Linked DNA regions of Homo sapiens: region 2 is linked to region 1. The links come from fine-mapping of genetic effects on gene expression. A gene starts in region 1. The other region holds a variant in brackets. All regions are shown on one strand. Distances are from middle to middle.

Region 1 (8,317 bases):
GCACACATATGCAATGCACATACATGCCAGCATGCATACACACAGGGGCACATATATGCACACATGCAGGGGCACACACATATGTACACATATAGGAACATGTGTGTATGCGCACACACATGTGCACATGTATGCATGTGCACACACACACACTTCTGGACAGCTGGAAGCTCTCAGCAGTTGCAGCTCTTTGACCATTCAGATCCACTCTTCACACAAGCTGCTTCACCTCTTCTAGGAAGCAGGTGGAAGGGGACCGCTCCCTAAGTACTCTGCACCCCAACCTGAGAAGGCCACAGGATGTGGAGAAGAGAGCTACCTTAAATCTCAGGCCCAGCCCTCTTTGGAGCTTATCTCCCACCCCCACATCTTGAAGCACCCAGCAGGGCTGAGGAAGAGAGGGCCAAGGAAGAAGACACAGCCAGCACCCTGGCTGGGGAGAAGGCAAAGGTACAGGAGGTTGGAGTGAGGGCCAGAGTGATGCTGGGGCTCAGAATCTTCCAGCGAGGCAGCCTCTGCTCCTCTGTAACCAGATTCCAGCCTTCTGTCTCAGAGCCATAAACACGAAACCACTCAAGGTCTATCTAGGACCCTGCAACTCCAGGACCAGCACATGCAGGGCCACAGGCCCGCGGCTGAAAGCTGATTGCCCTCTGCCCCTCAGCCAAGCCCTTCTCACATCCCCGTCTCCCCAGCTTCCCACAGGGCACAGGCTGCCAGACACACTCCTGTCCCCAGCATGTGTGTGCTGAGGATACACACACACATCCATCCAGCCACTGACCACTTCCTGAGTGAAGTCCTTCTCAGCCGATAGGCTCACCACGGGGTCTTGATAGCAACCTCTGAGTCCAAACCTCCACCCTCCCATCTTCATTACCAAAAGGAAGCATAGGTCAAGGCCAGGTAGAAAGTAGAGGGCAATGGCCCAACTACCAGCAGGATCTGAGTCAGAACCTCACTGTATTTGGGGACACTGTAGTCAGGGATAATGTAACGACAGAATCTGTGGCAGACAGAGGAGGCAGCCGTGGGAGTAAAGTCTGGGACTTTCCTCCCCTATCCAAGGTCCACAATCAGCTAAGCACGGCCCAGGGTCCTCCCACAGAGTAGGAACTCCCCCGGGCTGGCTCAGCAGCCGTCTGAGATACTGAGTGCACACCAATCACTGTCTTCCAGGTTCTGGGTACCACTCCAGCCCCTCTCTTCTCCACACTTCCCCAACCTGTCCACTGACCTTAATCACCTCCCAGGCACACACACTCAAAGTCAAAAGGAGGAGCCCATTCCAACCTCTGTCCCGCACCCGAGGGCTGATGGAGTCGGGTCCCAACACAACATCATCCCTTTCCCCCTCTGCCAGAGCAGCCCCTGCTATGGCCAAATCCTAAGGGTGGCATCTCAAAGTCCCTCCTGCTGAGGGACTGCCCCAGAAGTCACCTCTGCCAGTCAGGGAACAGCTGAGCTCTCACAGGGAGACTCAGCAGCATGTGGACACTGGCTGGTGCTGCTCACACGAGCGGGCGCCCACCCGCTCTCTCCAGAGGCTGTGTGTTGCAAGCCCTCACTTCCCGGGCTGTGTCCTTCCATAAACCTCTGGCCACCAACAACACTCCAGCTTTGGAGACCTTGCAAAGGACTTCCGAGCAGCTTTGAGGCCCGCACATCCTGCACACGTGTCCCTGGGATGCCAGGGACAAGAGGTTCTGCCCAGACAAGGTCAGCCCAGAAAGGGGTCTTACTTCCTGACACAGGCAGCCTTCTGAACTTCCCCGCAACACATTCTCAGCTCCTAGTGCCCTGAATGGCCCAAGGGAAAGAAATTGAGGAGGATCTTGGAATCCCAGGGACACTGAGAAAATAATGTTAATGTTTACTGAGCACGTACTATATAACAGGTAGTTGTTTTGTTTCCTTATAACACTCATGTCCACCTAAAAACCCTAAAAGTACATGCTATTGGCACATTTTCTATTGAAGCAAGTGACATTTAGAGAGGTTGAGAATTTGTCCAAGGTCACAGGGTCGGCAGGTGACACAGCCAGAATCTGAATCCCAGTCATATGGCTCTAGACCTAGGTCCTTAACTACCACACACAGAGCAATTGAGGCTAAGAAAGACCCCAAGACCAGCAAGGTCACCCTCTGCTTCCAGACAGGGGTACATGTCCAGCCATTCCAGACAGAAGGACCCCTCTGCACCCTGAAAGAGGGCATAACCTTCATGCCAGGCAGCCTTCAATTTTGGGAAGCCCTTCCTTCTATCTTGCGATTCTGCGTGTTGCTGCAGTATAAACTCACATTCCTTTATTCTGGGCTGAAACTTGCAAAGAAGTCCATTGCCCACCCTGACTTAGGTTCGGAGGCTATTTCAGAGCCTTCCTTCAGCGTCTCTTTTCTATTCAAAGATCCCAGCTCATCCTTTTGTGCTTTCAGGGACAGTCCCATAGCAGGAACATACCAAAAACGGGAGGGGAGGAGGATGCGGGCATTGGAAGACGGCAAGGAAATGGGGGAGAGGATGAGGCTACAGGCAGACTGTCAAGCGCAGCCCGATGCACCTCACATCCACCCCCCGTTCCGTAAGCTTCCGCCATCACCCTTGCCTCAGTGTTCCCACCTGACAAATGAAGAGTTTTAAAACCGTCCGGACCAACATGTCAGTTAACAAAATCACCCTTCGCTTCGCCCTCTGCTCGTTCTGTTTTCAGACACCACCACCCCCCTCAGAAGCAGAGGCGACATATTCATTCCATTCCGGAAAGTTTCCTGAAGCACGCCCCCCTGCACAGACGAGTGACGAGGGGACCCCGTGAGAGGCGCCTCCAGCCCACCCGGCGCCCCATGCCGCTGGGAGAGGGTTCTCTGTCGGCGAGTCCTGCCTGCTGACTCCCACCCACAGCGGGTTCTCTCCCGCCGCCATCTCCTCCGGCTTGGTGAACTTGCCCGCAGCCGGGTCGTGTCTGCGCGCTGACAGCCCTGAGCTCACAGTCCTGGCACCCTCCAGGCTCCGCTCCCACTTCCATACAAGGGCCGAGAGCCGGGGGTGCCACCCAGAGGCTTGTAGGTCGCTCTGCCCATCTCCAAAGCAAAAGCCCGCGCGCTCACGCACGCATCACCCAACTCGGTGGCTCCCCCCTTGCGTCTCCCCCAGCTCAGACCCAGGAAAGCGGAAAGAGAAAATCCCCCCTCCGCTCGGATTCACAGCGTGGGGACCCCCCCTTCCCCGCCCCTCCCCTCCCCCGCCGCCGCCCCCAGCCAGCTCTGCCTCGCAGCCTGGGGAGGGCGGCGTGGGGCCCGCGCGGCTGCGGCGCGCTCCCGGGGAACTTTTGCCTGGCCGGGGCCCAGGTGCGGCTGAGAGGCGCGGGGGCCGGCGGGGTCCAGCCAAAAGCGGACACACCTCGAAGCTGGCCTCATCAATCCTCCTCTCACCGGGCGCCCCTGCTAGGGGGATCCGACCTCCAGCTGCCAAGATGTGTGGGCAGGAGGGGCGCGAGCGGAGCGATGGACGCCCGCAGGGCCGCGCGAACCCGGGGCCTTAGACGCGGGTGCCGCCAGTCCCAGGGATCCTCCGGGTCGCGCCTCCCTGCAGGCGCTCCTCGCGGCGCGGGGCTCTAGCGTGCTGCAGCCTGCCCGGAGACCGCAAACTCCCGCAGCCAGAGTTTCCCGCAGCTCTGGGAGGCGGCCGCCGGGCAGGAGGCGACGGGCTAGGCGCGCCGGTGTGCACCGTGGGGCCCGTGGTGGGCGAAGTCGACCCAGGTTCCACTGCGTCCTTTCCCCGAGTGCCCGGCAGCCCGTGGGCTCTGGCCCCTTCCCGCCCGCCCCTCCAGCCCACGGCCCCCAGGCCCTCCCCGGCAATGCTCCCGGGCCGCCTGGCCCGCGTCGGAGCCCAAGCCTCACCCGCGGGAAGGCGCGCCGGGGAGCTGGGGAACCGGGGGGCCAAGGAGCCGGGAAACCGAGGGGCCGGGCGCGAGGGGCCGAGGGCGCCGGGAGGGGCAGGGGAGGGACGCCGCACTTCAACTCACCTTCAGCCGCAAGCCCTCGGGTGCCGATCACACTTGCTATGAAAGTGGCCACATACCAAATCATAGTACTACCGCGCCAGCCCGGAGCCTCATCCTATCGCAAAGTGCTCCCGCGCCCGCACGCGCCTCGCGCCCGAGCGCCCGCCTCGCGCCCGCCTCGCGCCGCCTACGCCCCGCGCCGGTGCTCCTGCAGCCCGGGTGGCCAGCTCTCCATCCCTCCTAGGCTCCGCTCGGCTCGGCGCGCGCCTCCCCGGCCCCGGCGCAGCGGCACCTGCACTACTCGCCCGGGCGGAGCGCAGCCAGGTCCACGGTGAAGCCTAGCCGGGCCGGGCCTCCGGAACCGCCCCCGCCGCCCGCCTATTGGGCGCCGCCCGCAAGCCGGGGGTCCGATTGGCTCAGCCTTCCGCCCGTCGCGGCGCGAAGGAGGCGAGCCCATTTCAAGGTGCGTTGAAGTGTGGCGAGCACAGAGCCGCAGAATCATGCGCATTGCCGGGGAGAAGGTGGTATAGCGTCTCTGCCCGCTTCTCTCTCGGCTCACACTGCGTGGCAAGTTTCTGGTGAGGGAAATGGTAGCTTCTAACGGGACCCTGGCGGGTCTCAATTACCCCGGACAGGTCTGAGGGAAGTGGAGCCCCCGCCCACTCATGGAACCCAACATCCGGTTTCCATCCGGCAAAAAGCAGTTCCCGAGAGGACCATGCTGATTCTATGATGGGGAAACCCAGGAGCCGGCGGCCCGGGAGAGCCGGGGAACGTCCTTCGCCGGAGATCTTTTCAAAGAGGTCACGCGCCGCCTCCCCACCCCGTCTCCCTCCGCACCCAGACACGTCCCCAGAGCAGCGCACCACCCCCTCCAAACGTGATGCAGACCGGGGGATGACTAAAATGACCTCTCAAAGTCGCTAAGATTTAGAGTGAGTCATTGGCTCAGCTGCGAAGTGCCACAGACCCCTCAGGAACACTCGTGCACACACACTCCACCCCCAGTGCTGGTCACTGCTGCTCATCATTACTGAATCCCGACTCCAAGCAGTCAAAGTTGGGTCTTTTTCCCACTTCTCCTGATAAAGGCTGCTTCCTCACGCACATGGTTCCTCCCCTCTCCACCTTACTCGGAGCCCAGCCCCGACTCGGCCGCATGAAACCAAGATGGGTTTGGGGGAAGCTTTAGGAGTCTGGGATGGAGGAGACCCAGGGAAAGGGAAGGAGCTTCTCATCCTACAGAGGAATGTAAATAGGAAACTGGAAGGTCTTCGTATGTTCCAGTCTCCCTACCCTAGCCTGTCTGCTTCCCCTCCCCCAATACAGTTGTATTTGCAGAAGAAATAAATGAGTGTCATGGAAACATCTACTACAAACAATCACCTCACACCAGCGCTCAGAGGCTGCAGTGAAGATGTTTGTTCTTTCAAGGAGTGAAGGCAGTGGTAAGAATCACACCGCTCCCTGGGATGGGCTGTTGGCCAAGGAAGGAAGGCAGAGGGTCAGCGAGCGAGAGCTCAGGAATTTCATCCTCTCAAAGCACTCGTTAGCCACAAAGCCCTGGCTCCAGGACATGAAGCTCCCAAAACAACAAGAAGGAGACTTGCTTCTGGGAAAGCGTGCACACAGGTACACACACATGCACAAAAAGTGGCCTTGAACACCGGAGGTGGAGCATTCCCTGACACCGGAAGCCTCTTAGCTCACCGCCAGCTGGGAGGCAGAAAGAGGCCCCCAACAGAGCAGTCAGTGAGCACATGGATAAAGGTCGAGGGCCTGGATAGATCCAGAGAACCAGGACTGTTGAATAACCTTCTACCCTACCCACCCCTCCACCTGTGCAAACACACTCAAGATGCATAACTTGGGGCCATCTCTCCCTGAGCCATGATTTTGGTTCTCTTCTTGGGCAAAGATGCCTTTCTGGGGACAATGAAGTGAGCTGCTCCAGGTCTCATTGATGCAGTGATCTCCAGGTCTCATTGATGCAGTGATTTCCAGGTGGCATGACCCAGAATAACTCCACCCCCAACACACACACACACATATACATACACACACACTTACACACTTTCCCAGGGCCCCGGGACTGTAAAGACATATTGGAATCCATTTGCAGAATTGGTCATAACAGGATCCTTCTCCTCCCACAACCTCTAAGCAGCTAACTGTGGCCTAGAGAAAAGTGCCGGATCCACAAAGCCTGGCCCTAGTTCCTCACCATTGTTAGGTATGGAGTGGGAAACATCAGGTCTCAGAGAAACCCTCTCCTAGGGGCCTGCAGGGCAAGGAAAAAGATGGAGCCACTCTCACCACCCATCTTGATTGCTTTGTCTGGCCATCCATTTGTCCTACTCAGGGTTCTGCCTCCTGCTAGGAAAGTAGAACTGTCTGTCAGAATGGATGGCGGGCATGGAGGCTCATGCCAGTAGTCTCAGCTCCTCAGGAGGCTGAAGCAGGAGTATTGCCTGAGCACAGGAGTTCTAGGCTCAGTGATCATGCCACTGCACTCCAGCCTGGGTGACAGAATGAGACCCTGTTAAAAAACAAACAAAAACAACAACAAAAGTGTCTGTCAAATTGGAAAGAAAAAAACACGTAACAAGCTTTAGAACATGAGTTGGGTTGGGAAGGGGTTCGAAGGATCTATCTAAAGAGGAGAACAAATTTCTTCTGGATAATTCTACTGGAAACAGAGTGGAACAAGGGATGAAGGCAGAGAGGAAGGGGAAGAAAATTAAGATACAAAGGGAAAAGTTCGTCATCATCATCATCATTAGACATGTCTCAACTGGGTTTCAGATCAGCTAAAGAGAGATATACTGTATCAGCTTACAGTGAGGAGTGAGTCTGATCAAATCTTTTCCTCTTGGCGTATGGCTGAGCTTTGGACCCAGAAAGGATGGTTGCCCCTTCCTAGAATAGACACATCCAGTTGAGTGTTCAAGGGGAGCATGGACCCCAGATGTCCAAAAGGGACATGAGGGAGGAACATGAGCCACTTCCCTGCGCAGCTCCTAGGTGTACCTGAATGTCATCGATGTCACTAATAAATGCAGTAATATATCCAGGAATGCTATGTATATCAGATACGGGAGTGTCTGTCATCTTCTTTTAAGAGGTACTGACTTTTTGGAAATACAAAACAATAGTCTTATCAGTGTGTCTATGAAAAAAAACCAAATGTAGCCACCTACCTGCACATCCCAGAGGCCTTTGGAGGACATGTGAGAAAGGGGGCTGACAGGAGCTTCAAGTGTAGGAGAAGAGGAAACTATCCTCCTTCCCTCCTCATAGTCATCGAACAAGGAGGACTCAAAAACAATAGTTCACTTGTCTGTCACTTCTCACCTTCCTCAGTGGTTCCAGCCCTCATTGCAGAATCTAGGGTAGAACAATTGTTGGGACAGCTGCTTGTGAAAAGGAGAGGCAGTTCTAAATAAAAGCAGTTTACTCAACACAAACACCAAAGAGCGTGTTTAGTGTTTACATAAATAGGGAACTGTATCAGTTGTCTTACCGTGTAAAAACCCAGCCCAAAATATCATGGCTTAAAGCAAGAAGGCTCATTCATTTGCTCTTGAATCCGCAATTTGGACACTGGCTGGTGAGGACAGCTCTTCTCTACTTCATGTGGCATCAGCTCCACTGGGGTGTGGACCTTTCTCCTTTCAGGATGGCTTACTCACGTGGCTAGCAGGTTGACGCTGGCTGTTAGCCTGGGCTGCCAGCAAAGGGCTGTGATTCTTCCTCAAGTGGGCCTCTCTGCAGGCTGCCTGGGCTTCCTCAAAGCATGGTGGTTCCAAAAGCTGGCATCCCAGTAGAACCAGGTGAAAGGCATATGACCCTTCATATCCCAGCCTTGGAAGACACCTAGCATCACTTCCATCAGGGTCAAAAACCTGCCCCAATTCAAAGGGAGAGGACACAGTTCCCCACCTCTCAATAGAACAGTGGCCCTGTCACTTTTTTTTTTTTTTAGACGGAATCTTACTCTGTCACCCAGGCTGGAGTGCAGTAGCGCAATCTCAGCTCACTGCAACCTCCGCCTCCCAGGTTCAAGTGATTCTTCTGCCTCAGCCTCCCAAGTAGCTGGGCCTACAGGCACATGCCACCACATCCGGCTAATTTTTGTATTTTTAGTAGAGACAGGGTTTCACCATATTGGCTAGGCTGGTCTCGAACTCCTGACCTGGTGATCCACCCACCTTGGCCTCCCAAAGTGCTAGGATTACAGGCGTGAGCCACCGCACCCGGCCCCTGTCACATTTTAAGAAGAACTTACGGGATGGGAGAGAGTGTTGCAGCCA
Region 2 (8,317 bases), 32 kb before region 1:
CCGGGCGACTTGCCTGCCCAACCCTTCGGTGCCTCCAGAGACAGGATGCCCGGGTAGGCCGCGGGCACCTGCAGGGAGGTGGGGGGCAGTCCTCGGGGGAGGCCGGCCTTGGGCTGCAGACTCTCGGGCACATCACAGGGTGGCAGCTGGTGGGGGAACATCATCGCTGGGGTCTCCAGCCCCCCGAAGGGGAATTCTGGCCGGCCCCAGGGCTCAGGGGAGCGCCCTCCTGTAGGTGTCTGAGTCAAGGGCAGCGTGCTGTTGGATGCATTCTCTCCATTCTCCTCGGGGATGGTGGGGTGGCCAAAGGGCCCCTCGGTGGGCAGGGGCGGGGACGACATGACGGAGCTCAGGGGGCTGCCCACTTCTGGCACGTAGAACGGGGGCGGCTCCACCTCCCCAGGGCTGCTGCTGCTGAGGTACCCATAATACTGGCCATGGTGGAAGGGCCGGGGGGCAGGGGGCCGGGCCTGGCCTGTGGCCTGAAGCCGACCTTCCAGGCCACCGGGGCCCTCCAGCCCGCGGGGCTGGAACCGAGGGCTGTATGCTGGTGGTGGCAGGTAGGACTCCTGGCTGGATGACAGAGGGGTGAGCTGGGACTTCAGGGCGGCCACAGATGTGGGCACCAGTGGGTCCTCGTTCTCCTCGTCCGACTGGCGGAACTCGGGGTACATGTCCGTCTCCTCGGCGAAGGGGAAGCCCTCGATGCGCCTGCTCTTCAGCGAGGGCTCCATCTCGGCAGGGTCCATCACGAAGCGGCCGTCAGGGCCTCTGCTGATGAGCTCGATGGGCGTGGTGGCCTCTGCCTCGGCCTCTGCCTTGGCCACGCTGTACTTCTTGCTGCTGATGGCCCGCTTGGTCTTCTTGTACAGCGACAGCTCCTTCTCACGGGTGGGGCTCAGCATCCTCTTGGCCGCGGGCTGGCCCTGGTCGTCGGAGGATTCTGACGGCGCTCGGAGCGTGCGGATGCTCTCGGGGCTCACCTTGCCAGAGGACAAGCTGCAAGGAGGAGCAAGAGCCGGGAGGGGATGAGGTGGGGCAGTGTGCTGGCCAGGACTTCCTTTCCCTCTCTCGGCAACCACCCAGCACCCAGGATCCTCACGCTCAAGAAAACTGGCTGTGTATCGTGGTGTGAAATGCTTTGGCCAACTCTCCACCGTCTGGACGTGAATCCTCCTTTTTTTTTTAAAGACGGGGTCTTGCTATGTTGCCCAGACTGGTCTTGAACTCCTGGCCTCAAGCAATCCTCCTGCCTCAGCCTCCCAAAGTGCCAGGATTACAGGTGTGAGCCGCCGCGCCCGGCCCCCCCCATCATCCGTCTTTCCAGTGAACACCCGCCTCTTCACTTTTGTGCTGGCCTGCCCCCTCTCTGCTGTGCTCTAAGCACACCTCCAGCTTCATTCCCCTCTTTTCAAGACAAGCAAGCTCACTTTAATATCAACTTAAGCAACACATATTAAGGAGGCAAATCTGCTAGGGTGGGAAAACACTAAAGAAATACATTCCAAGGCTGAAGAGAAACTGATTACTGGCTAATTTGGATCATCTGCACTGCCACTCCCTCTACCAGCGTGGACAACTTACAATTAACACACAGGTCAATCAAGAAGAAATGGCTTAGAAACACTGAGATGGGGCTGGGCAAGTACAATTAACACACAGGTCAATCAAGAAGAAATGGCTTAGAAACACTAACATGGGGCTGGGTAAGGCGAGCGGTCTACCTATGCGCCCCCTGCCATGAACAGCACAATTCTCCCAGGATCTGAGACACTTACGGAGACTCCAGGCTCTTCCTGCAGTGGGTGATGGAGAGTGGAGGGTCTGGAAGGAAAGAGAAGGGGAGAGGCTGCTGAGGCCAAGCCAGCAACCACGCAGCACGCGCATCTGCAGAGGCTGACAGAGCCGGAGCACCACCGCACAGGGAAGGAGCTGCTCACAGTGGGCATCTTTGGCCCCTGCCTTCATGCTAGCTTGGGCCCCAGCAGCCTCTCCCCACCACCCCTGCTTCTTACCCCCACTTTCAAATCAAGTCTCACTGGCAGCTCTACCCACAAGATCTCAATGTCCCTATTTCCAAGGGGGGCCATGCTAAAAATGGTCCACCTCTCTTGATGGGGGGCATTTGAAACCGGGCCAGGGAGAGCAAGGGAAGGGGACAGACACCCACCTTTTTTGCGCTTGAGCTTACGCTTGCGCTGCTTGTTGACAAAGCAGGCAGCCAGGGTGCTGAACAGGATGGCAGCTGCCAAGAAGCAGATGGTAGCTACGATTCCCGCCAGCACAGGCCGCGCCAGCCCATCCTCGGTCAGGTCCGGCTGCGGGAAGATGTCTGCAGGGAGGGTGGGGAGCACTCATGAGCCCATCCTTCCCCGGGACCTCACCTGCTCCGACCTTCAGTCCCCAAGTGTTTCACCCTGCCTTTGTAGAACAGACAGTGTCAAGGCTCGGGCTCCAAGCTGAACTCTAGCACTGAAGAGGTTTGGATGGCGTCACGAAGAGGAAGAAGAGAGGAGAGTCTACAGAAGTCAATCTCTCCAAAGGGTGTAAAGAAGAAAACATCTATGCCTGTCCCCATGGGGATAATGACTTCAAGAGTAATCTATACTTATCTAGGGTTTTGCCTTCTGCAAAGCACCTTCATGCACGTTATCAGCTCTTCTCATGTTAACCCCATGAGCTACACAGAGCACACATACTGTTCTCATTCTCTAAATGAAAGAGCTCTGATCCACTGGGTTAGAGAGACCCGCTTACGTGGATATTGCCATCAGTGCCCAAACCAGAACGCAGCTGCCTGCTCCCAGTCTGGGATTTCCTGCCTCACACCAGTGTCTCTACAAAAGGAGAGCCCAGGTGTGAAGGCAACTTGAGGATAAAATACGACTGCAGGAAGAGGGATTATTACTACAAAATTCAGATCCTCTCCCCTTCTAGTACAGGCATGCAACGTCCTGAAGATTCGCATCCTGGTCATCTCAGGTACGGAAGTACCCTAGAGCTGGCAGGGACAGCAGAGATGGAGCCAAATCTCTCGTTTCACCATAAGGAGCTGAACGTCCTCCTTTCCTGCCCAAGTCTACAGAGCTCGTTATGACCGAGCCAAGACTAGACACCAGCCTACCATCTTATACTCATAGGAAAGTTGTGTCGGTAAGTGCCACTGCTTAGGTTCAGCAAAGGCAGAATCGATAGATTGTAACGTATTTGGCCAGAATTCATTGCTGCATCGATAATAATAATGGATAAAAATAATCCAGATGATGCTGATTGTCTGAGGGGAAAATGAAAGCTACAGCCTTTGGAAATGGGGGACCTAATACAGGGAATGCTGAGGCTGCTGCCTCCTCCTTCCCCTGTGTGGAAGTGTCTGACGAGGCACATTTCCTGCCAGGAGCTGGCATAGAGCTACTGAGCACAGAATGGTCAGGGGTGGGCCCACACAACACCCCTTCTTCAGCTCCAGCCTTGGATGCAAGCTCTCATCCCTGTTCCTCCAACTCTGAGTCTATTCCCCACAGAGAAGTCAAGAAAGACTGTGGGTTCTGCTACCTGTAGGACACAACCTTTTTTTTTTAAAGCCCATTGATGCCTAATGTATAAAGCAGAAATTGCACTCCACACCTGCCCCTGCTCTCGTGCTCCCTGCAGTGTGCCCACACCAGCACTTCCCCAACTCTACAAGTCCTGCTGCATGAGCTCCTCAGACGAGGTCACTGTCACCTGGTCCCAGGGGACTCTGGGTGAGCGGTGCCCAAGGAAATGATGCCATCACTTGCTTATAAGCAAGAGCCTTTTCCCATACCAAGGACACCCCTTCACTGGCGGAGGAACCTGCTATGTCTCAGGAACTATAGCTGGAGAGAAGATGTGTAGAAATGGGACCAGGGCCAAGAGAAAGAAAGATAAATGGAGAAAATGCTAGGGAATTGGCTTTATTTAGCCTTAAAAATCTAGAGAGAGGAAGGAAGGGAGGAAAACACCAAACAACAATTTTCCAAATAAAACCCACATAATTATAAAGAAGTCTATCACAAGCATTTGATAAACATGGTTGACCTGTTGTTTCCTCCGATTCACAGCCCCTCCCCGACAAGAGGAAACTGAAAATGTACAGCAAATAGCACTTCAATCAAGTCCTTTTTGACTACTATAATGAGAAGATTAGTTGAATTTCTTTCTGTGGCTGTCTTATACAAGTGTCAGAAACTCAGCTTCTGAGCTTCACGAAATAGCATGCATCATGGAAATATGGGTCTGGTGGGCTTAAGAAAGGCTATGACTCACGCAGCTGCAACCAGGCACTGCCTTAGTTTCCAATCCAGCTTCTCCTCGTGGAGTAGCCATTTCACAAAATGACCCCCATGCAGCTCTGGGGCTTATGTCCCTATAGTTGCAAGAGCACCCTCAACCCAAAATACCTGTGCTGGAGACGCCGGCGATGTTGCTGGGCTCGCTGATCAGATCCTGCATGACGGCCAGAACCCGGAACTCATACCACGTGTCCTGCAGCCCCAGGGACAATACCCAGTCAGCCGAGGGACCTGAGATGACCACTGTCCCCTCACACACTCATCCTGCACACAGCCTTGCAAAGGGCAGGGCACCCAAAGCACAGGAGGACTGCTAAGTGTCTAATGCTAAGCGATGGTAGCACTGGCCAATTGCTGTGGTGTAAACACTCTTACAATGGCTGACTTCAAGCTACGAACGTGAGGTCACC[G/A]AAAGCGTTGGGAAGAGATATGTACAACAGGCTCTCCAGGGCCACTGGGAGCCGACTCCAGCAACCACTATTGATAAATAAGTGTCCAGGAAGGAAGACAGAAAGATAGATGAGACTGTATCTTAGGAAACCAGCTGCTTCCTCTCCCCAGCTAGATATCCAAGTTTAACGGAGCTACTGGAAAAAGAGATAATGCACTTTCTTCCAGGAGCTCTAAATTACTGGAGAAGGGGTTCTTCCCTGGACACACCTAGAAGAGAATTCTTCTTGGAACTTCTCTGCCCACCCCAGGTTAGGCTCAGCAAGGGCTGGGGTCAGTGCTCTGATTACGCCTGCTGGCCTCTCAGCCTGCCCTGCCCAGCTTGTAGCGGTGCCGGGACCCTCAGTAGAACACAGGTCCCCGCTGCCCCAGAGCTGGCCCCGAGCCTGTGGGCCATGATCTGAGGAGTCCAGGCCTTGGTAGCGAGTCTGGGAGAATCCAGGACCAGTGGTGAGGAGGTACAGGATGTGGCTGGCCTCACACACCCAAAGTTGGTCACTCAAAGCTTCCAGTGCCTCTAGAGTCTTGTCGCTTCCCGGATTTGGGAAGCAGCAGCAAGGAAGAGCAAAGCCCTCACCTGTGACAGATCCTTGGCAAAGAACTCTCCTTCGGTGCCGGGGATGCCATCGTCGAGCAACTCCCAGCGCTCTGCGACACGGAACTCCATGATGTAGCGGTCGATGGGAAAGCTGTGGTTGGCAGGCGGAAGCCAGGACAGGAGCACACCCTGCTGAGTCCGATTGGCTATGAGGCACCTCGGTGGGGTGACCAGCACCAGGGGTTCTGGAGTTGTAATAGGGAATGCTGCGGCGGGGGAAGGAGAAGAACCACAGCGCATCAGCGAGGCCCAGGGCAGCCACCGCACCCCCCACACTCCTGTGCACATGTCAGGGCCCAGAGGGAAGCAGAGTCAGGGCCCGGGGCCCAGGGCTTCAGGGTTCTGCCTTCAGAGTACGTCTAAACATACATGAGGGAATCGTGTACTGCAAAAGGGAAGAGAAATGGGAACTATGGGGAAGGAGGAATAATTAAATGTCATCAAAGTATCTCCTGTGCTCTTCCAGGGAGCTAGGGATATCTTCTTTCTCACAGCACAGCAGTCACTCTTTCCATTCCCTTCTTGGCCGGGGTTTGGGGGTCAACACAAGGCCCCACAGAGGTGCCAAGGACTGGGGGTGAGCATCCCAGACTGCTGTCCACCTTGGCGGCCGCTCAGGAGCGGATTCTGGGAAAGGGGCTGGAGTCGCGCCACCTACACCACCTAGGAAAAGCCTGTTCACAGTGGCCCTTTCTCTGGCTCCAGAGCAGAGCAAACACAACTGTGGCCAGGCAGGGAGGAGTATGAGGCTGCCTCCAGGAAGGTGGCCTGGAAGACTCTGCAGCGGGAGGCAGCCACATGCCTACCGCCCAGTGACGCTGGGGCCAGAGGCCAGAACCGGCAGGCGCTGCCAAGGAGGGAGGATGCCCAATCTCCCCTGAAAGCAAACATGTGGCCTGACAAGGAAAGAGAAAATTCTAAGTGTCTTTCTTCCACCTGAAAAAGCAACAGGAATTCGGCCAATGGCACTCTGATGCAGGACCAGCAAACCCCACAGAGACCACAACAAATCCTCACGGGGAGATCAGATGGCACGGCTCTGTGGAGCACTCAGCAAGGTACCGGCACACAGGAGGCCGACTGCTATAGCTGCCTGGGCCACCGCCCCCACCACCTCTACAACCCCCGCTCCCAACATCCCACCCCGGGCCCTCACCTAAAGTGTTCACAGTGACCACCTCACTGAAGGCGCTGGTTCCCAGCTTGTTCTGGGCCAGGACGCTGAACTGGTACGCTGTCTCAGGCTCCAGGGTGTCCACCAGCAGCCAGCTGGGTCCTGGCGGCACTGGCAAGGACAGCCAGTCATGGGGCCCAAACTGTGCCCGCTTCATCCTGGCCAAAAGAGAGAGACAGGATAGGGGACGAGGGGCGGGGTGGGTCACACTGGAGAGAAGAGGGTGCATGCAGGGTGCTCAGGGAGAAGGCACTGGTGGGCCTGGCGTTCCTAGGTTCAAGGGCAAGAAGAGGGCATGGCCCAGAGTGGATGCCCTGCCCAGCTTTGGCTGTGCCAATCCTCCTGATGCTGGGTCACCAACCACAGCTGGCATCTTTTCTACCAAAGGGGCCTTTAGGTGCAAGTCGTGCTCAGGACACTGGTCAGATGGATTACCAGCTGCATTGTGGGAGAATCCCACCCTGGTCACAACCCTAAGAACAAGCTCTGCCTTGGGAGAGTAAGGCTCTGGGGTATGGGGATAAGCGGCTCAACAGTGGCAGGATGAGGGAAGGAGCCCAGGACCTGGCTGCACACACCCCCAGGGACAGCTGAAGTAGGGCCTCGGGTAACCCACAGGGCTCATTCATCCAATCAGACTGGAGTCACCTGAGATGTCCAGGGTATAAGACCATAATGACCAGGGGTTTCCCCACAGTGGGGCCAGGATCCCTAAGGCCGTAAGGGTTGGAAGAAGGTCACGCTATGCATGGAGAGTAGGAAGACGGGCCGAGGGTGTTCCCTTGTTCCACAGGCTCCCAACTCCCAGCAAAGCCGGAGGGCTATGGGTGCAGTGCTGCCACGTCACCACAGGGAGGAGACATGGTCCTGTGGGACTGGCCCTCTCCTTGCAGCCCTGAGCTGTAACCTGGTGGGTGCCCTCCAGGATCCACTCCCGGGTCCCGGCTCACTACCGTGCACGCCCAGGAGGGTGAGATGAGGCAGCGGAAAGCAGTACAAAAAGAAGCCGGCGCCAAACGTCGGAGTCAGTGCACAGAGTTAGAGGCAGGCAGAAAGAAAGGAGACCTCCCCAACCTCGGCCCCGCCCTTCCCTGGCCCAGGCAACAAAGCAGCGAGGAGCCACGTGTGGAAAAGCAGTGCAGATGAGCAGCAGCGTGGAGCAGCAGCGTGAAGCAGCACCGCAAGCAGCAGGGGAGCCCCAATCTACACCTGAGCCCCCCATCGTATGCCCAGACCTCCCACCCAGGCATCTCCAAAGACAGCTTGACCACACCAAATGTCCCACCCTGGACACCTAGGCGCTGAGCAGCACCGGTCTCCCAGCAGCCACCGGGCAGGCTGGTTAGGGCCCCCACGCTGCTGCGGGAGGAACAGAGTAAGGGGACGGGAGGTGAGCTGCGGCAACTCCCATCATCCAGGTGCAGTTCTCCAATCAGAATCAAGACACCCAGGACACTCCGCCCGGGAAGCAGCCACCGAACCACCATGATGGGAGACAGAGCGGGTGCCCCTCTCAACTTCCCTCGCTGCTGAGAAGTGGATAAAGGGGTCTCCCTGAACCCCCTGAGCTGCCCCAGGTGCCTGCCTTTTCCCCCTCCCCTCGAGCTCCCCCTCCTCGAGTTGAGCCTGGCTAGAGAGACACCTGCAGGTGAGACAGGTCTAAAAGAAGGCACTGAGGGGCTCGCCCTCCCAGCTCAAGGTTGTCACCCCCGGGGCAGGGCAGGTGGCTGCCACTCTTACTCAAACAGGAGTGTAGGGAGGGGCAGCCCTTGGGGGTGGGAG

Alleles and levels. Positions count from the first base shown, and alleles are read on the strand shown. Sizes are in standard deviations (SD) of each study's normalised expression.
For the expression in transverse colon of the gene that starts at base 4,303 in region 1, G is the low allele of the variant in region 2 and A is the other (small effect, 0.11 SD a copy in GTEx).

The links. PIP is the estimated chance that this variant, and not a neighbour inherited with it, causes the effect.
Region 2: its variant is fine-mapped to the expression of IGSF9B in transverse colon (GTEx, PIP 0.93).

The regions. Positions count from the first base shown.
Region 1 is chr11:133,952,666-133,960,982 of GRCh38, forward strand. IGSF9B (immunoglobulin superfamily member 9B) reads right to left here and starts at 4,303. Exons shown (of 20, transcript NM_001277285.4): 1 at 4,026-4,303. The coding sequence starts at 4,089. RefSeq lists a silencer at 4,132-4,481.
Region 2 is chr11:133,920,399-133,928,715 of GRCh38, forward strand. IGSF9B (immunoglobulin superfamily member 9B) reads right to left here. Exons shown (of 20, transcript NM_001277285.4): 13 at 6,518-6,693; 14 at 5,341-5,567; 15 at 4,422-4,506; 16 at 2,171-2,332; 17 at 1,779-1,824; 18 at 1-999. Among named protein-coding and RNA genes, the nearest start is that of MIR4697, 26 kb to the left of the region's middle. RefSeq lists a silencer at 7,206-7,295. The variant G/A (reference allele first, on the strand shown) is at 4,724.